3 linked regions of the Homo sapiens genome follow. The protein of the gene in region 1 purifies or fractionates together with the protein of each later gene. This does not show direct contact. Each region holds a gene or a part of one and is shown on either strand. Other genes may lie near its edges. The genes, in order: CSTPP1, TBC1D19 and SANBR.

Region 1 (7,135 bases):
GAAAACAATAATAGTGGTTACTTTTGGGAGGCTGAGGATGGATGGAAACTGGGCAGATGGAGGCAAAGGGGTAGGCTTTTCACTAAAAACATCTACCTATCTATCTATCTATCTATCTATCTATCTATCTATCTATCTATGCATTTTAGAGGCAGGGTCTCACTCTATCATCCAGTCTGGTCTTGAACTCCTGACCTCAAGCAATCCTCCTACGTCAGCCTCCCAAAGTATTGGGATTACAGGCATGAGCCACCATGCCAGGCCTAAAAAATACTTTGAATCAAGTTTCCATATTACCAACCTTAAAAAATATTTTAAAATTAATTTTTAAAATAAGTTAAACAAAATGTAAACCAGAATTGTTTTTCATTTAAAAAGATGTTGGCTGGGCGCGGTGGCTCACGCCTGTAATCCAAGCAGTTTGGGAGGCCGAGGTGGGTGGATCACCTGAGGTCAGGAGTTTGAGACCAGCCTGACCAACATGGAGAAACCCATCTCTACTAAAAATACAAAATTAGCCAGGCGTGGTGGCGCATGCCTGTAATCCCAGGTACTAGGGAGGCTGAGGCAGGAGAATCACTTGAACCCAGGAGGCGGAGGTTGGGGTGAGCCCAGATCGCATCATTGCACTCCAGCCTAGGCAACAAGAGTGAAACTCCATCTCAAAAAAAAAAAAAAAAAAAAAAAAAGATGTAAGCCAGGTGCAGTGACTCACACCTGTAATCTCAGTACTTTGGAAGGCCACAGTAAGAGGCTTGCTTGAGCCCTGGAGTTCAAGACCAACCTGGACAACATAGTGAGACTCTTTCTCTACAAAAAATTAAAAAATTAACCAGGGATGGTGGCATGTGCCTGTAGTCCCAGCTACTTGGAAGGCTGAGGTAGCAGGATCACTTGAGCCCGGAGGTTGAGGCTGCAGTGAGCCGTGATAGTGCCACTGCACTCCAGCCTGAGTGACAGTGCCAGACATTGTCTCAAAAAAAAAAAAAAAGAAGAAGAAAAAAAAAAAAGATGTGCATGGTACATCCATACAATGGAATATTATTCAGAAATAAAAAGAAATGAGTTATCATGCCACAGAAAGACATGGAGGAAACTTAAATGCTTACTGCTAAGTTAAAGAAGCCCATCTGAAAAATTTACACACTGTATGACTCCAACTACATGATATTCTGGAAAAGGCAAAACTTTAGAGACCATAAGATCAGTGGTTGGCAAGGGCTGCAGGGGGAGGGAGAAGGATCAATAGGTGGAGCACAGGGGATTTTTCAGGACAGTGAAACTATTCTGTATGATAATGGAATGGTGAATACATGACATGCATTTATCAAAACCCACAGAACTGAACAACACAAAGAACCCTAATGTAAACTATGGACTTTAGTTAATAATATGTATCTATAATAATATATCTATATAATAATAATAATATATAATATATTATTATATATTATAAATATATATGTTTATCCATTGTAACAAATGTACCACACTAATGCAAGATGTAAATAATAGCGGAAACTGTGAGTGAGGGAGACCCAAGGTATATGGGAACTCGCCGTACTATCTGCTCAATTTTCTGTAAACTTAAAACTTCTCGCCATGTGCAGTGGCTCACGCCTGTAATCCCAACACTTTGGGAGGCCGAGGTGGGCGGATCACCTGAGGTCAGGAGTTTGAGACCAGCCTGACCAACATGGTGAAACCCCGTCTCTACTAAAAATATAAAATTAACCTGGCGTGGTGGCGCATGCCTGTAATCTCAACTACTCGGGAGGCTGAGGCAGGAGAATCGCTTGAATCCGGGAGGCAGAGGTTGCAGTGTACTCCAGCCTGGGCAACAGGAGAGAAACTCTGTCTCAAAAAACAAAACAAAACAAAACAAAACGTCTTTAAAAAAATAAAAGTCTATGAATTATTTAAAATGTGTATTGTGGCCGGGCGCGGTGGCTCACGCCTGTAATCCAAGCACTTTTGGAGGCTGAGGCGGGCAGATCACGAGGTCAGGAGATCGAGACCATCCTGGTTAACACGGTGAAACCCCGTCTCTATTAAGTATACAAAAAAGTAGCCGGGCGAGGTGGCGGGCGCCTGTAGTCCCAGCTACCCGGGAGGCGGAGCTTGCAGTGAGCCAAGATCGCGCCACTGCACTCCAGCCCGGGCGACAGAGCTAGACTCCGTCTCAAAAATAAAATAAAATAAAATGTGTATTGTGTGCATATGTGTGTGTGTGTACATATCTATGCGTGTGTGTGCCTTTTTTCATTCATTAAATGCCTTATACACTAAAGATGCTCAACAAAGTACTACATATACAGTCTTAGCTCAAGAGCCAAGTCAATATCTCAAGTTCTGTTGGAGTGGGCAAATCCGGTTCTGATCCTAGCGCTACCATTTTCTAGCTGTGTGGCCTAACTTAACGCAAGTTACCTCTTCAGCCCCAGTTTCTCCACCTGCAAAACTGGAAGAAAACACGGTAATTCCTCCTAGGGCTGTTGAGAAATTCAAATGAAGAATGATGCATGAAAAATGCTTAGCACAGTGCCTAATGAAAAAGAAAAGCTCGAAATGTTCGCTGACTGATTTGGCACTTGAGGTTCCAAGGTTATTCTTACTCCACTACCAGCATATCAATAATACCCCAACAGGGCCCCAAATCCTCAACGCCAACCTGACCCATTTGAACACAATCCACATTGCCTGAGTTCCAGCCCCTACACTTCAAACATTCTTTACTTCCCAGGTGCTTTTTTCCTTCCTGCTCGGCCTTACAGGCTCAGGCCCTGGAACCCCCGCCTCTCCGCCCCTCCCCATACCACCCGGACCCGATCCCACTCAGACCCCGCCCCCGCCTCCTCCCAGACCCTGGCCTAATTCGTCTGCACGTCTTTCCCTCCCCAAAGTTAAAGGGGGTTCCTACCCAGATACTCGTAGTCCGGTAGGGCTAGGCGCTCCGGACTCAGCATCCTTTGACCGGGGTGGCTTCAAAGCTCCAGCTCTCCGGCTTCCGGAACCCAGGTTGCCGTCTCTCTCCGTTGCCATGGCACCCACGCGGCGGAAGGGGGACGGGAGCTGGAGGAGGTGTCACACAAACAGTCTCCGTGTCGCAAAGTGGAGCTGGCCACTCAAGTTCCGGGGGCAGTCGCTTCACGATGGTCCAGGTTTCTTTGGACTCCCATTCTTGAAGACTTGGTTTTAGAGGAATCTGAGATGAAGAATTCTTTTGAATCCGTTATGTTTCCCAGTGTCGAAGAATTACTGTCAGCCGCCCATATACGCAGTTTCTGAATTTCATAACTATCCCTGCTTTTATACACTGTTTATCCTAACTCAGTAATAGCCCCCGCCCTTTGGCCCCCATAAACACTTAGTATCCCATTAGCTATTTTTATCTCTTTGGTATTTACTATCTTAAATTGCTACAAAGTGCTTACGTATGCATATACCCTGGATGCTTCTAGAGGTCAGAGATGTGTCTTTTCTGCCTATGACGGCTGGACACACAAAAGGTACTCATTAAGTCCTCTGAACTAATTGCCATTTCTTCTCAATTCTCACTCAGTCGCCCAGGCTGGAGTGCAGTAGCGTGATCTCGGTTCATTGCAACCAGCGCCTCCCGGGTTCAAGCGATTCTCCTGCCTCAGCCTCCCAAGTAGCTGGGATTACAGGCGCCCGCCACTCCGCCTGGCTAATTTTTTGTGTTTTTAGTAGAGATGGGGTTTCACCATGTTGGCGAGGCTGGTCTGCAAACTCTTGACCTCAGGTGATCCGCCGACCTCAGGTGATCCGCCTGCCTCAGGCCTCCCAAAGTGCTGGGATTACAGGCGTGAGCCACCGCGCCCAGGCTCAATTCCTTTTTATCTTTGGTTCTTCTTTCTATTCCTAGCCCTTACTATTTGGTACCTTTCCCAGGTGTCTTTCCTTTTTCCTACCAAGACATTGCTCTTCTTGAGGGAGAGGGGCTGCAGAAACGAGGACACCAGTTAGATTTTTTTCCCTATATGCCCAATTGCTCACTTCTTCTTTAAGAGAATATTCACTGGTTTTCAAGTTCCTAAATATTTCTTTTCGCCCCTCTCCACTCCTGACAACAGGTCAGAGATCTGTAGCACTAGACACAGTTCAGACATAGCAGAAAAAGCCACTCTGTCCTCACTTTTTTAGTGCCCTCCCCCTCCAACAAGGTGAGGTTTGTGAAAAAGAGACAAAGAAAACAAAATCAAGCTATCAAAGGAATGACTGGGAAACCAGTAGACCACCTACACTGGGAGGAAAAGGAAAGAGGAGGTTCTTCTCTTTGTGTTCCGAGTGGCCTATTCTTAGCGTCCTCCAGTAAGGAGCCTCAAACCTCCTAATTCTTGCTTTCCCTTAAAATTGTATATGTGTCTCAATTCTAGGCTCCTGTGAGTCACTCTAAGTTTGGATGTGGTGAGGTTAAAAGGACAGAGCCAAAGTAGGAGCAGGGCTTAGTGTCTTGAGGCAAATTTACTAATTTGGTATTTGGTGTGAAGTCCAGCAAATCTGATTTTTTTTTAATTGCCTTCTTATCTGCTTCCCCCATCTAGCTTGAGGTTATGGGAGGTTCATATGTTCCATAACTGTGGCTTTTTACTATTTTATTAATAAGGTAATACCATAGTAATTATTAAGTGATAATTTTACTTTATTCCCAAGCAACTTGTAGCTATTTGCAAATAATCTTATTTGTCCTCATAAAAACTTTCTGCTGAGGTGGGCGGATCACGAGTTCAGGAGTTCGAGACCAGCCTGGCCAATATGGAGAAACCCCATCTCTACTAAAAATACAAAAATTAGCCAGGCGTGGTGGCGCACGCCTGTAATCCCAGCTACTCAGGAGGCTGAGGCAGAAGAATCACTTGAACCGGGGAGGCAGAAGTTGCAGTGAGCCAAGATCGCACCACTGCACTCCAGCCTGGGCGACACAGCGAGACTCCGTCTCAAAAAAAAAAAAAAAAAAAAAAAAAAAACCTTTCTAAGGCACTTTTCCATTTTCTAACTAGGGAAACTGAGGCACAAGTCACAACAGTGACTTGTCTAGTGACTTGTCTAGCATCATGCAGCCACATAGTGGTAGAGCTACAACTGGATCTCAGCTATCCCAACATCCAGGCCAGTGGTCTGACCACTAAACCACACAGTCTCTTTTTTTAGGGTTTGTTGACCTGGCTTTTATTTATTTATTTTTCCTTTTGCTCTGCCCTGCTAGCAACTGGAAGCTCCCAGATAGAAGAAGATAATGTTGAGTCCAGGCTGAACATTTGACATCGTCTTATTTGTGGAGCATTATCCTGGGACTTGGCGGGTGCTGGCTGCTGGGGTCTGTGTGGTGGAGCTGGGAACCAGCCCCAAGAATATAGCTTTGTTTGGGCATTAACCCATTTGTGGTTATAATAATGATAAGTTTCAGCACCAGTGGCGCCCGACTGTTAATGACTCAAAGAAGGCTAAATAAGAACAAGATGTCATCTCTGGAGCAATTTGTAGGTTTTTCCTACAGTTCCATCCCTTCCATAAAAATCCGAAGGACCCCTGTATTCAAAGTCAGTCTTCCACTCTGAATGTCCTGAACAGTCTATTGAGGAGGAGGACTTAGAAAAGTAGGAGGTTGCTAGAGTAAGGCTTCACAAAAATTTGAAGTTTCACCGAAATAACAGGTGGCCTTACTGGTAGTGGAATTACTGACTGTTTACATTTTTCTTCTTTATATTTTTCTATAGTCTTAAACTTTCTATAATAGGCATGTATTATAACCTGAAAACAAATAATAAATGAGTGGCCTGAAAATCTTTAAAATTTTTTAAGCAGATGTGATGACCTTCCAGACAGTGTTTGTTTTTCCCAAAAAGAAGCCACTGCTAGATTTCTCTTCTGTCACAGATTACATGATAATAGATTTTTGAAACACATTGGTTATTGGTGAAATTTTTCAATGAAACATACACTACATCAGTCTTAAGAAGAGTAGAAATATATAAGAGTTGTTAAAATTAAGTGTATTTTTTGTGACTTGAATGTGAAAGAAAGAAAAAAAATGTCAGCCTTTGATTTAAATTGACTTTTCAGGTTCTTAACTTATCATAATATATTTCTTAAAAATTTACCAAAAAAAAAAATCACCGAGGTAAATCGGTAAGTCAGAAGACAACTCCATAATCCTGAAAAGAGGCAAGTGATAAGATATTGATGATAAATAGAGCATCGGATGTTAAAGGCAGTACTACAGCATGACGACTGTAAACATCAAATTCAGAACAATAAGAAAAAAACAAGAGAGAGAATATATTGAGATGGTTTTTGTTTTTGTTTGTTTGTTTTTTGAGACAGAGGCTCACTCCATCATCCAGAAAGGAGTGGAATGGTGCAATCTCTGCTTACTGCAACCTCTGTGTCCCAGGTTCAAGCCATTCTCCTGCCTCAGCCTCCCGAGTAGTTGGGACTACAGGTGTGTGCCACCACACCCGGCTAATTTTTGTATTTTCAGTAGAGACAGGGTTTCGCCATGTTGACCAGGCTGGTCTCGAACCCCTGACTTCAAGTGATCCACCCGCCTCAGTCTCCCAAAGTGCTGGGATTACAGGTGTGAGCCACTGCACCTTTTGTTTTTTGTTTGTTTGTTTGTTTTGTTTTTTAGTATATATAAGGTCTCCCTTTGTCACCCAGGCTGGAGTGCAATGGCACAATCACAACTCACTGTAGCCTGGAATTCTTGGGCTCAAGTAATCCTCCCACCTCAGCCTCCTGAGTAGCTGGGATCACTGGTGCATGCCACCACATCCAGATAATATTTTTAATTTTGTAGAGACAAGGTCTTGCTAGGTAGCCCAGGCTGGTTTCGAATTCCTGAGCTCAAGCAATCCTCCTGCCTCAGTCTCCCAAAGTGCATGAGCCACTGCACCCAGCTGAGACATCAATTTATCAGATTATAATTTCTGATTTTATAATGAGAAAATTAATAGACATCTCTGGCTCTGCAGAAGACCTATTAAGAGATTGATAGGGAAGAAAATCCTCCCTATAATTGAAGACTATAGAAAAGCAAACGGTGAATACACTAAACAGTTTTAAACTTCAAGGAAGCAATAAGGAAAGAATAAATGCAGGCTGAATTATTGCT
Region 2 (7,113 bases), on another chromosome or scaffold:
TATGGCTGCATAGTATTCCATGGTGTATATGTGCCACATTTTCTTTATCCAGTCTACCATTGTTGGACATTTGGGTTGGTTCCAAGTCTTTGCTATTGTGAATAGTGCCGCGATAAACATACGTGTGCATGTGTCTTTATAGCAGCATGATTTATAATCCTTTGGGTATATACCCAGTAATGGGATGGCTGGGTCAAATGGTATTTCTAGTTCTAGATCCCTGAGGAATCGCCACACTGACTTCCACAATGGTTGAACTAGTTTACCATCCCACCAACAGTGTAAAAGTGTTCCTATTTCTCCACAACCTCTCCAGCACCTGTTGTTTCCTGACTTTTTAATGATCGCCATTCTAACTGGTGTGAGATGGTATCTCATTGTGGTTTTGATTTGCATTTCTCTGATGGCCAGTGATGATGAGCATTATTTCACGTGTCTTTTGGCTGTATAAATGTCTTCTTTTGGGAAGTGTCTGTTCATATCCTTTGCCCACTTGTTGATGGGGTTGATTGTTTTTTTCTTGTAAATTTGTTTGAGTTCATTGTAGATTCTGGATATTAGCCCTTTGTCAGATGAGTAGATTGCAAAAATTTTCTCCCATTCTGTAGGTTGCCTGTTCACTCTGACGGTAGTTTCTTTTGCTGTGCAGAAGCTCTTTAGTTTAATTAGATCACATTTGTCAATTTTGGCTTTTGTTGCCATTGCTTTTGGTGTTTTAGACATGAAGTCCTTGCCCATGCCTATGTCCTGAATGGTATTGCCTAGGTTTTCTTCTAGGGTTTTTATGCTTTTAGGTCTAACATTTAAATCTTTAATCCATCTTGAATTAATTTTAGTATAAGGTGTAAGGAAGGGATCCAGTTTCAGCTTTCTACATATGGCTAGCCAGTTTTCCCAGCACCATTTATTAAATAGGGAATCCTTTCCCCATTGCTTGTTTTTCTCAGGTTTGTCAAAGATCAGATAGTTGTAGATATGTGGCATTATTTCTGAGGCCTCTGTTCTGTTCCATTGGTCTATATCTCTGTTTTGGTACCAGTACCATGCTGGTTTGGTTACTGTAGCCTTGTAGTATAGTTTGAAGTCACGTAGTGTGATGCCTTCAGCTTTGTTCTTTTGGCTTAGGATTGACTTGGCAATGCAGGATCTTTTTTGGTTCCATATGAACTTTAAAGTAGCTTTTTCCAATTCTGTGAAGAAAGTCATTGGTAGCTTGATGGGGATGGCATTGAATCTATAAATTACCTTGGGCAGTATGGCCATTTTCATGATATTGATTCTTCCCACCCATGAGCATGGAATGTTCTTCCATCTGTTTGTATCCTCTTTTATTTCATTGAGCAGTGGTTTGTAGTTCTCCTTGAAGAGGTCCTTCACATCCCTTGTAAGTTGGATTCCTAGGTATTTTATTCTCTTTGAAGCAATTGTGAATGGGAGTTCACTCATGATTTGGCTCTCTGTTTGTCTGTTATTGGTGTATAAGAATGCTTGTGATTTTTGTACATTGATTTTGTATCCTGAGACTTTGCTGAAGTTGCTTATCAGCTTAAGGAGATTTTGGGCTGAGACGATGGGGTTTTCTAGATATACAATCATGTCATCTGCAAACAGGGACAATTTGATTTCCTCTTTTCCTAATTGAATACCCTTTATTTCTTTAACCTGCCTGATTGCCCTGGCCAGAACTTCCAACACTATGTTGAATAGGAGTGGTGAGAGAGGGCATCCTGTCTTGTGCCAGTTTTCAAAGGGAATGCTTCCAGTTTTTGCCCATTCAGTATGATATTGGCTGTGGGTTTGTCGTAAACAGCTCTTATTATTTTTGAGATATGTCCCATCAATACCTAATTTATTGAGAGTTTTTAGCATGAAGGGCTGTTGAATTTTGTCAAAGGCCTTTTCTGCATCTATTAAGATAATCATGTGGTTTTTGTCATTGATTCTGTTTATATGCTGGATTACAATTATTGATTTGCATATGTTGAACCAGCCTTGCATCCCAGGGATGAAGCCCACTTATCATGGTGGATAAGCTTTTTGATGTGCTGCTGGATTCGGTTTGCCAGTATTTTATTGAGGATTTTTGCATTGATGTTCATCAGGGATATTGGTCTAAAATTCTCTTTTTTTGTTGTGTCTCTGCCAGGCTTTGGTATCAGGATGATGCTGGCCTCATAAAATGAGTTAGGGAGGATTCCCTCTTTTTCTATTGATTGGAATAGTTTCAGAAGGAATGGTACCAGCTCCTCCTTGTACCTCTGGTAGAATCTGGCTGTGAATCCGTCTGGTCCTGGACTATTTTTGGTTGGTAAGCTATTTATTATTGCCTCAATTTCAGAGCCTGTTATTGGCCTATTCAGAGATTCAACTTCTTCTTGGTTTAGTCTTGGGAGAGTGTATGTGTCGAGGAATTTATCCATTTCTTCCAGATTTTCTAGTTTATTTGCGTAGATGTGTTTATAGTATTCTCTGATGGTAGTTTGTATTTCTGTGGGATCAGTGGTGATATCCCCTTTATCATTTTTTATTGTGTCTATTTGATTCTTCTCTCTTTTCTTCTTTATTAGCCTTGCTAGTGGTCTATCAATTTTGTTGTTCTTTTCAAAAAACCAGTTCCTGGATTCATTGATTTTTTGAAGGGTTTTTTTGTGTCTCTGTTTCCTTCAGTTCAGGCAGTTAATTTTTAAAGGACTCCAGCTCTTTCTCTTTCTCAAGGGGAATTGGGTTTCTTACATATAACTGAGTTTCTGCTTACACATTCTTTAATTTTTTTTAATTCCTGTTCCACAGTGGTGCGATCTCAGCTCCCTATAGCAGTTTTATTCATAAGTGCTAAAATTTGTATGCAACCAAGATGTCTATCAACAGGTGAATGCATAAACAAACTGTGGTACATCTATACAATAAAATATTACTAAACAGAAAAAAAAATCAGCTATCAAGCCACAAAAAGACAGAGAGGAACATTAAATGAATATTGCTAAGTGAAAGACACCAGTAAAATAACTACATACCACATAATTCCAACTATATGACATTCTTAAAAGCAAAACTATAGAGACAGTAAAAAGTGGTTGCCGGAGTCTCAGGGGGAAGGGAGGAATGAGCAGGTAAGCCACAGGGGATTTTTAGAATACTGAAACTATTCTGTATGATACTGGAATTGTGAATACATAAATACAGGACACCATGTATTTGTCAAAACCCACAGTAGCCATGTACATGGGTGAACACCTGGAATTCCAGCTACTTAGGAGACTGAGTCAGGAGGATCCCTTGAGCCCAGGAGCTTGAGACCAGCCTAGCGAGACAAACATAGCAAGACACTGACTCACAAAAAAAAAAAAAAAAAAAAAAAAAAAAAAACAGACCTGCAAGACAAAGAGTGAACCTTAATGTAAACCATGAACTTTAGTTAATAATAACGTATCAATATTAGTTCAACTGAAACAAATGTACCACACTAATGCAAGATGTTAATAATAGATGAAAATTGTGCAAAGGAGAGGGATAAATGGAAACTACTTTCTGATCAATTTTTCTGTAAATCTAAAGTCTATTAATTTAAAAATATTCTCAAATAGAAAACTGCAGACACAGGCTTCATTGAAGAATTCTTCCAAACATTTAAAAAATAACAAATCTCATAACACTCTTATGGCAAATAAAATTTTAAAAGGGAGGCAGCACTTCCCTACTCATTTTATGAGGCCAGCATAACCTTGATATAAAACGTGACAAAGATGGTTACAAGGAAGGAAAATTACATACCAATCATTCTCACGACATTATAGCAATATTTATACCCTAATTCTTGGAGTTCTGTTAGCTCCACTGTAGAAAGCCACTATAAAAGAATGTCACCCCCAGCCAAATAAGAAAAACAGTACAATATTCAAAAATCATACATTCTGAACCCATCAGTAAACTGAAGCTATAAGACAACCAAGTGAATTAAATTCCAAGTAGTAACAAGCTCCTTCAAGGACAAATGAGATTCTAAACTACTTCACCTTTGGCAGAGCACAGGAGGAAAAGGAAGCTACCATACAAGACAGTAAGAAATGAACTAAAATGTTAACTATCATAGACAAGATGTAGGCTAGTGTGTCGGTTTGGAATAATTTTGGAACCCAAAATGCAAGGGGAATTCACACACATTTGCATAGTCTTTTCCATAGGTCTATGCCAGGTGCCCATACAAAAGACTGAGAGCAGAAATCTACAAAGAGCACTCTGGTGGCACAGGTGTGCAAAACGAGATAGGCTGCCACTGCAGGACAAGCATAAAACTGCTACCTTGGCCAAACTCTCCTCTCATCTGAAGCAAAGGACTAAAAACACTGGGGAAGGTTCAGAAACCCTCCCATTCTGAAGACAAGGCAGTAATTCACTGCTTTTGGGGGTGGGATAGATACAAAAACCCTCAACCTCATAGGAAAATAAGAAAACTCTCTTGGGCCCAGGATCCTACAACAATACAAAGCAGAGGTAAATTAGCACTAGGGCAGGGCAGGTATGGGTCTTTCACTCAATACCACAGACACAAGGCAGAACTGGGCTGCCAAAGGGATAAGGGGATGGAACATGCCAAAGCTGGGAAAGCTCCACATCCAAGGATAAAGCACATGGACTGAGTCAGAAAAACAGATGACTCCTGCACCTACTGTGAGCCCAGGACTGAATAACAAACAACAGACTTCTGCTGGGGACAAGAGCACAAAGAGAGATCTCCCCCTGAGGAACAGGCAAGGAGACAGAAGAAAGTCAAGGATGTAGTAGAAACAATGAGAAAAACTCTGTAGTACCCTAAGATCTATGCCAAGCACAAAGTAACAGCAGTCTACTACTGGGTTTTGTTGTTGTTGTTGTTGTTGTTTGTGTTTTTGAGATGGAGTCTCGCTCTGTCCCCTAGGTTGAAGGGCAGTGGCACGATCTTGGCTCGCTGCAACCTCCACCTCCCGGGTTCAAGCAATTCTCCTGCCTCAGCTTCCCGAGTAGTTGGGATTACAGGAATGCACCACCACACCTGGCTAATTTTTGTATTTTTAGTAGAGACAGGGTTTCACCATGTTGGCGAGGCTGGTCTCAAACTCCTGGCCTTAAGTGATTTGCCCACCTCAGCCTCCTAACTACCTCTAGTTTCAAAGGAATCTGAAGCCTGTGATATACTGAAGGTAATGACAACAATAACAAAACCCAAACCCAGCTTGATCCTTGTCTATATTGACTGAAGCCCCTACACTCAGTAAGGATATAGAATACTGAAACAAAATTGCCTACTAGACCTAATTGACAATTATGGAACAGAAACAGCAGAATAAGCATGCTTTTCAAGTACATATGAAACAAACAAGATAAAACATATTCTGGATCATAAAAGTAAGTAAACAGCTAAAATCATACATATTTTATTCTTGACCATAAGAGAATTAAACTAGAAATCAATCAGAGAAAGATAGTGGTAAACAACACATTTATAAATAACCCATGGGTTATTAGAACCCATAAAATCACAAGAGAATTTTTTTAAATTTTAATTGGGTGAAAATGGCAATAGACTATATCCTAATTTATAGACACAGATAAACCAGTACATAGAAAGAAATTTAGAGCATTTAATTAGAAGAGAATAAAGGTCTCAAATCAAAAATTTAAATTTCACCTAAATAGCTTTAAAAATGCAAATTAAATCCAAAGCAAGCAGAAAAAAATAATAAAGGAAAAAAATCAGAGCGATTGAAAACAGAAAAACAATCAAACCAAGAGCTACTTCTTTGAAAGTATTGATATAATTGATAAATCTCTAGCCAGATTAATTAGGGAAAAAGAACACATGGCCAGGTGCGGTGGCTTATGCCTTTAATCCCAGCCCTTTAGGAGGCCAAGGCGGGCGGATCACGAGGTCAGGAGATCGAGACCATCCTGGCTAACACGGTGAAATCCTGTCTCTACTAAAAATACAAAAAATCATCTGGGCGTGGTGGCAGGCGCCTGTAGTCCCAGCTACTCAGGAGGCTGAGGTAGAAGAATGGCGTGAACCCGGGAGGCGGAGCTTGCAGTGAGCCGAGATCATGCCACTGCACTCCAGCCTGGGCGACAAAGCGAGATTTCACCTCAAAAAAAAAAAAAAAAAAAGAACACATATGACAGTATAAGGAAGGAAGGAGGGGCTATCACTACAAATCCTACAGACACTAAAAGGAATATAAGGGGATCATATAAACAATTTTATACCAGTAAATTCGTTAAAATAAATTAAGTGCGGCAACTTCTTGAAACATAAAAACTACAAAAGCTTACAGAAGAAGAAATAGATAACCTGAATGGCCTGCATATATTTTTAATTGAATTTTTTTAATTAAAAATGTGTCCATAAAGAAAACTCTAGGCACCAGTGACTTTGCTGGGAACTCTACCAAATATTTAAGGAGCAAATAATATTAATTCTACATAAATTCTTCCAGAAAATAAGGAACACTTCCCAACTTATTTTATAAGATCATCATTAACTGGTATCGAAAGCAGACAAAGTGTTACAAGAAAAAAAAAAACTACAAAGAAATATCTTTTTTTTTTTTTTTTTGAGACAAGGTCTGGCTCTATCACCCAGGCTGAAGTGCAGTGGTGCGATCTCTGCTCACTGCAACCTCTGCTACCCAGGTTCAAGCCATCCTCCCACCTCAACCTCTCAAGTAGCTGGGACTACAGGTGCGCACTGCCACACTGGCTAATTTTTGTATTTTTTGTGGAGATAGGGTTTTGCCATGTTGCCCAGGCTGGTCTCAAACTCGTGAGCTCAAGCGATCTGCCCACCTTGGCCTCCCAAAGTGCTAGGATTACAGGCATGAGCCATCGCGCCTGGCCACAAACCAGTATCTTTCATAAATACAGTTACAAAATCTTCAGCAAAATGTTAGCAAATTGAGTCAAGAAATATATAAAAAGAATAATGCATCATAACCAAGTGGAATTTATCTCAGGAATACAAAATTGGTGCAACATTCAAAGCCAATCAGTATTATTCATCATATCAACATGAGCAGGAAAAATAATATGAACATATCTACAGATATAAAAAAGTACTTAACAAAGTTCAACATCCATTCATGA
Region 3 (7,113 bases), on another chromosome or scaffold:
ACAGAGCAAGACTCCATCTCAGAAAAAAAAAAGAAGTTTACATGTTCTGTATACTTGAGTTTATAGACTAAGATTTATACCTGCCACAATTTTAAAAGATGCATTATTATTATTTGAAATATTCTAAAGAAGGTTGAAAATAATTTTTTAGGTATGTATATATGTTGTTACAAATTTGACCTGCTAGATTGCCTTTGGAACAGTACAGATTAAGTCAAAAACTGGGTGGCAAAACCCAGTTAGTGCCTAGCAATATATGGATTAGACTTTTAATGAATTTTATCTTTGAAAGGTATTGCTATGACATTGTCCTTCATGCTACTATTTTCGACATTTATTTTCTATGATTTTTTAGGTTGAACAGTGTATTCAGTATTGCCACAAAAATATGAATGCCATAGTAGCTACCCCATGCAACATGAACTGTATTAATGCAAATCTTCTCACACGTATAGCTGATCTGTTCTCACACAATGAAGTTGATGATTTAAAGGACAAAAAAGATAAATTTAAAAGGTAATTTCAAAAGTTTAATTTTAAACCTAATACTCCTGTTAAAAGAAATATATTTCTATTTCATGTGAGTGAAATATTCTTTCTTTTTTCTTTTTTCTTTGAGAAAGGTTCTCACTCTGTTGTTCAGGCTGGAGTGCAGTGGTGCAATCTTGGCTCACTGCAGCCTCAACCTCCTGAGCTCTGGTGATCCTCCCACCTCAGCCTCCCAAGTAGCTGGGACTACAGGAATGCACCACCATGCCCAGCTAAATTAAAAAAAAAAAAAAAAATTTTGACCAGGCACAGTGGCTCACGCTTGTAATCCCAGCACTTTGGGAGGCCGAGGCGGGCAGATCACGAGGTCAAGAGATCAAGGCCATCCTGGCTAACATGGTGAAACCCCGTCTCTACTAAAAATACAAAAAATTAGCCAGGTGTGGTGGCAGGCGCCTGTAGTCCCAGCTGCTTGGGTGGCTGAGGCAGGAGAATGGCATGAACCTGGGAGGCGGAGCTTGCAGTGAGCCGAGATCACGCCACTGCACTCCAGCCTGGGTGACAGAGCGAGACTCCGTCTCAAAAAAAAAAAAAACTTTTTGTAGAGACAGGGTCTCACTTTGTTGCCCAGTTTTTGAAATTAATTTTTACTCTCTCTTTTCATTTATAGTTAGCTTATTATTATTATTTTGAGACGGTCTCTCTCTGTCGCCCAGGCTGGAGTGCAGTAGCAAGATACCAGCCACAACCTGTACCTTCAGGCTCAAGCGATCCTTCCACCTCAGCCTTCCAAGTAGCTGGAACCACAGGCGCACGCCACCATGCGCAGCTGATTTTTGTATTTTTTGTAGAGATGGGGGTTTGCTGCGTTGCCCAGCCTGGTCTTGAACTCCTGGGCTCAAGCAATCCACCCGCCTTGGCCTCCCAAAGTGCTGGGATTACAGGTGTGAGCCACCATGCCTGGCCAAAATACTCTATTTTTAGAATATATTTAGAAATATATTTCTATTTTTAAATGAAGTAAGTAAAGTGAAGTAAAATTTATCCAGAGCCAATGGCTCAAGATAAAAATTAGTAATTAGTTACTTTGTATAATGGCCATATGAACATATCGTGATAGTGAATTATGTTAAAAATTATGAAGATATTACTCAAGAGGCTGAGGTGGGATGATTGCTTGAGGCCAGGTGTTGAAAGCTGTAGGGCACTACTATTATCCCTCTGAAAAGCCACTGCACTCCAGCCTGGGCAACATAGTGAGACCCATTTCTAAACAAATAAAAATTATTAAAACAGACCTTAGATAAAGGGAAAAGTGGTATGAAACGAGGTCAGCAGTGGTTATATCATTTAAGGGTTGTTTAGGTCATAGCAAGGAGGATATACTTTAGGTGTGAATGCAAGCAGGGGAGTGACGTGATCTGATTTGTTGTTAAGAGGCCATTTTTGGTTGCTATGTGGAGAATAGACATTAGGGATTTAAGAAGCAAGGAGACCTGTTAAGAGGCTGGTGCAGTAGTCTGTTGAGAAGTGAAAGGGTTTGCACTAGGGTAGAAACGGTAGAGCTGGAAAGAAGTAGATGGACTCAGTTGTTAGATTTGACAGATTTATGAATGTAATGATGTGGGGAGAGAGAGAGGATTCCAGGATAATTATTAGGTTTTCAGTTTGAGTAACTAAGTGGATGGTAGTGCTATTAATGGAGAAAGGAAAGATTGGGAGAGGAAGGAATAGGGTAAGGGAAATCAAGAGATAGCTTTAGTTCTTTTTGAGATTATTTAACATGCTTCTTGGACATTCAAGTGGGATGGCAAGTAGATACCTGGATATATTAATCTGGAGTTTAGGTCAAAGGTCAGGACTTAAAATAGAAATTTAAGAGTAGATGAGATTTGAAACCATGGAACTGGATGAGACCATACTTTTTTTGTATGTCCTGTTCAATAAATCTTTGCCTCCCTAAAAGTGGTGAAGACATTGTCCTATGTTTTTCTGTTATTCATCTTGAATTAATTTTTTTTTGTGGTATGAGGTAGGGGTCAAGGTTCATTTTTTTTTCCCCAAATAGATATCTAGTTGACACAATACCATATGTTGAAAAGACCATCCTTTCCCCCACTGAATTGCACTAGTACGTTTACTATATGTGAAGTCTGTTTCCGAATTGTCCTTTGTGTTCTGTTGATTTCTTTGTCTATCCTTGTATCAGTAGCACACTGTTACACTGTCTTTTTTTTTTTGAGACAGAATTTCACTCTTGTCACCCAGGCTGGAGTGCAATCATGAGATCTCGACTCTCTGCAACCGCCGCCTCCCAGGTTCAAGCAATTCTCCTGCCTCAGCCTCCCAAGTAGCTGGGATTATAGGCACCCACCACCACACCCAGCCAATTTTTATATTTTTAGTAGAGACGGGGTTTCACCATGCTGGCCAGGCTGGTCTTGAACTCCTGACCTCAGGTGATCCGCCCGCCTCGGCCTCCCAACGTGCTGAGATTACAGACGTGAGCCACCACACCCAGCCAACACACTGTCTTAATTTTGATAGCTTTATAATCATTTTTGGTATCTGGTAATTTAAATTCTCAAGTTTTGCCTATCTTCAAGATTGTAGTGTTGTCTATTAAGTTCTTGGCATTTCTATATAAATTTGATAATCAGCTTACCCATTTTCTCTTTCTCACAATCACATAAACCTGCTAGAATTTGGGATTCATGTAATCTGTAGATCAATTTAGGAAGATTTAACCTTTTAATAATAGTGTGTCTTTCAATCCATGAATATGGTATAACCTTCCATTAATTTGAATCCTCCTTAATTTATTTCACCAATGTCTTGTAGTTTTCAATGTAGAGATATTTTTCCTTTTTATTTATTTTATTTTATTTTTTGAGACAGGGTCTTCTTGCTCAGTCACCCAAGCTGGAGGGTAGTGGTACAGCCATGGCTTACTGCGGCCTCAAACTCCTGGGCTCAAGCATCCTCCCACCTTGATCTCCCAAAGTTTTGGAATTAACAAGTGTGAGCCACCATACCCAACCTCTTTTTTAAATTAAATTTATTCCTAAAATAAATTAAATAAATAAATTTATTTAATAAATTAAATTGTTGGTGCTATTGTAAATGCTACTGTATTTCATTTTTTAATTGTTAGCAAAATAGTATTGATAAAGGCTACCCAATATTTAGAGATGCAGCAGAGGAGAAGTAGCCAGTTAAGAACCTGAGAAGGAGGAGCCAGTGAAGTAGAAAGAAAGGCAGAAGGAAAAAAGGTTTCCAAAGAAAGATAATGCTTAAGTGACCAAATGTGTGGAATGCTGCCATCACATAGAGTAAGATGGGGACAGAAATGTGACCAAGTGGATTTAGAAAACTTTTTTCCGGATGTTTTACTTTGCATGACTGCTGAAAAAATTAGCAGTAGCTATTAGGGATAGGTAGGCTCAAGAGAGGATTTTTTGTTTTTTTAGGAAGGGAGATACTAGATTATGTTTATATGCTGATCAGAATGATCCATTAGGAATAAATTAATAATGCAGGGGATTATTCAAGAATTTAATCCTTAAGGGGAACAACACAGAGAGGAATTATCCAAGAGCTAAATAATTGAAAACAGAAATGGAATTCTAAATCCAGATTTGGCTTTTAATAGCAGAAGACATTACACAAGGAAAGATGGAGACAGGTAGGATATACATTTAGAATTAAAGACATACTTAGAAGACTCAAGTTCAGTTATATTATGCATAATAATTAACGTTTATTGAATGCTTAACGTTATATCTAGTACTCTTTAAAAACATCACTTAACCCTCATAAAACTTTATGAGATTGGACATACTAACCACACTTTATACTTGAGAAAACAAGGTTCAAAGAGGTTAAGTAAGTGGCTAAAGATCATATACCTAGTTATTGGTAGGCCTCGGTTGTTAAATTCTCAAAATCTTTAATGTTGCATATTCCAGTAACAAAGGACTAAAAGAGGCCAGGCAAGGTGGCTCAAGCCTGTAATCTCAGCACTTCGGGAGGCCAAAGCAGGAGGATTACTTGAAGGCCAGGAGTCTGAGGCCAGCCTGGGCAACATAGCCAGCCCCAATCTCTACAGATTTTTTTTTTTTTTAATTAACTGAATGTGGTGGCACACAGTAGTCCTAGCTACTTGGGAGGCTGATGTGGGAGATCACCTGATCCCAGGAGTTTGAGGCCCAGGAGTCTGAGGTGCCACTGCACTCCAGCGTGGGTGATGGAGCAAGACCCTGTCTCTAAAAAAATAAAATAAGGCCGGGTGCAGTGGCTCACGCCTGTAATCCCAGTACTTTGGGAGGCTGAGGTGGGCGGATCATGAGGTCAAGAGATCGAGACCATCCTGGCCAATATGGTGAAACCCAATCTCTACTAAAAATACAAAAAATTTGCTGGGCATGGTCATGCACACCTGTAGTCCCAGCTACTCGGGATGCTCAGGCAGGATAATCGCTTGAACCCGGAAGGCAGAGGTTGCAGTGAGCAGAGATCGTGCTGTTGAACTCCAGCCTGGGCGACAGAGTGAGACTCTGTCTCAAAAAAAAAAAGTAAAAATAAAAAATAAAATTTAAAAATGACTGAAAGATAGCTATTTATCAATCTTATTTTTTATGGGAAAATAGATGATTGATCAAGCAGTTCTCATCAGAACTGCTTTATTTTATTTACTTAATAATAAACTGTTAATTTTATTTACTTAGAACACTAAAAATGTATTATAAACTCCCAAGAGAGCCACTAAGGATTTATTAATCTTATTTTACAAATGCACAGATTGGTTTGTTTATTTTCATCACTATAAAGTAGTGTAGAAAATTAATATTTTGGTCATTTGTTGTTAATAGCAAACTTTTTTGTAAGAAGATTGAAAGACTGTTTGATCCTGAGTACTTGAATCCAGATTCTCGGAGTAATGCAGCAACATTGTATAGGTATGCTAACATGTTTTTTTCTTTGGTGTACTTTATAATGCAGCTATATTCTTTAATTTACTACATTTACATTCTTCTTCCTGGATGTTTTTTGTATCTTCTTTGTTTATAGATGCTGTTTGTGTAAGAAACTTTTAACAAAAGAAACAGAAAGAAGAATTCCTTGCATTCCTGGAAAAATCAATGTGGATCGACGTGGAAATATTGTCTATATTCACATAAGGTGTCGTGAAGATAAAATACATACATGTATTTTTGTATATATATATATATAGTTGTTGTTGTTGTTTTGGAGACGGAGTCTTACTCTGTCACCCAGGCTGGCGTGCAGTGGTGTGGTCTTGGCTGACTGCAACCTTCCGCCTCCCAGGTTCAAGCGATTCTCCTGCCTCAGCTTCCTGAGAAGCTGGGACTACAGGCGTGTGCCACCACACCCAGCTAGTTTTTGTATTTTTAGTAGAGATGGAGTTTCACTGTGTTGGCCAGGCTGGTCTCGAACTCCTGACCTCATGATTTGCCCGCCTTGGCCTCCCAAAGTACTGGGATTATAGGTGTGAGCCACCGCTCCCAGCCCAGATTTTTTTTAAATGTGAATTTCTAGCATATTTATAAAAATATAACTACTTTTATAAGGAATGGGATAACATCTTTTCTGCATGTTATCCAACTTTCATTTAGAAAAATACTTTCTAAACAAGGTAGTTGTTAGTACATTTTATTTACTGGGTAAGTGTCATAATGTTTTACACATTAAAATGATAAAAATTATTGTATATTAATCTTGAAAGGTATTCTGGTTAGTGCCTTTAAAATGCTCTCTTTTCACTAACAGATTTTAGTTATCTGTACAAATGTTATATTGAATTTTACAAGAGAACCAAATTTACTTTCAGGTAAATTTTGGTGAGGAAAATTGTCTTTAGCATTGGATTTTCTGTCATCTATTTGTTCTTCATACTTTGTCAGTATTTCATTAATATGTAGGCCGGGCACGGTGGCTCACACCTATAATCCCAGCACTTTGGGAGGCCAAGTCAGGTGGATCACCTGAGGTGAGGAGTTTGAGACCAGCCTGACCAACATGGTGAGACCCCGTCTCTACTACAAAAAACTAGTTGAGCATGGTGGTGGGTGCCTGTAGTCTCAGCTACTTGGGAGGCTAAAGCAGGGGACTCACTTGAACCCAGGAGGCAGAGGTTGCAGTGAACCGAGATAGTGCCACTGCACTCCAGCCTGGTGACAGAGCAAGACTCCATCTGAAAAAAATAAATAAAATAAAAATTAGCTGGGAATGGTGGTGCACACCTGTAACCCAGCTACTTGGGAGGCCAAGGCAGGAGAATCACTTGAACCCGGGAGGTGGAGGTTGCAGTGAGCCGAGAGCACACCATTGCACTCCAGCCTAGACAACAAGAGTGAAACTCCATCTCAAATAAATAAAATAAATAAATACATAATACATATTTCTCTTTATGTTCAAAACAAGTTCTCATTCTGAGTTGAGGGTGGGTGTTGTAACTTGGTATAATGTCTCAGGAGGCAGAAACCTCAAAATGTGTATTCTTTGACATCCTTCATCCAGTATCATTCAGGCTGAAATGCAGTGGTGCAATCATAGCTCACTGCAGCCTTGAACTCCTGGGCTCAAGAGATCTTCTTGCCTGTA

What was found.
Region 2: the proteins of CSTPP1 (region 1) and TBC1D19 purify together in Homo sapiens (co-immunoprecipitation; 2 studies listed by BioGRID and IntAct, with this or other methods). This does not show direct contact.
Region 3: the proteins of CSTPP1 (region 1) and SANBR purify together in Homo sapiens (co-immunoprecipitation; 2 studies listed by BioGRID and IntAct, with this or other methods). This does not show direct contact.

The regions. Positions count from the first base shown.
Region 1 is NC_000011.10:46,932,637-46,939,771, reverse strand, and holds the start of CSTPP1 (centriolar satellite-associated tubulin polyglutamylase complex regulator 1), read right to left. Parts: upstream 2,967-7,135; coding exon 2,921-2,966; intron 1-2,920. UniProt on the Homo sapiens protein: Regulator of the tubulin polyglutamylase complex (TPGC) that controls cytoskeletal organization, nuclear shape, and cilium disassembly by balancing microtubule and actin assembly.
Region 2 is NC_000004.12:26,587,050-26,594,162, reverse strand, and holds part of TBC1D19 (TBC1 domain family member 19), read right to left. Parts: intron 1-7,113. UniProt on the Homo sapiens protein: May act as a GTPase-activating protein for Rab family protein(s).
Region 3 is NC_000002.12:61,082,799-61,089,911, forward strand, and holds part of SANBR (SANT and BTB domain regulator of class switch recombination), read left to right. Parts: intron 1-355; coding exon 356-516; intron 517-5,360; coding exon 5,361-5,447; intron 5,448-5,559; coding exon 5,560-5,670; intron 5,671-7,113. UniProt on the Homo sapiens protein: Negatively regulates class switch recombination or isotype switching in splenic B-cells.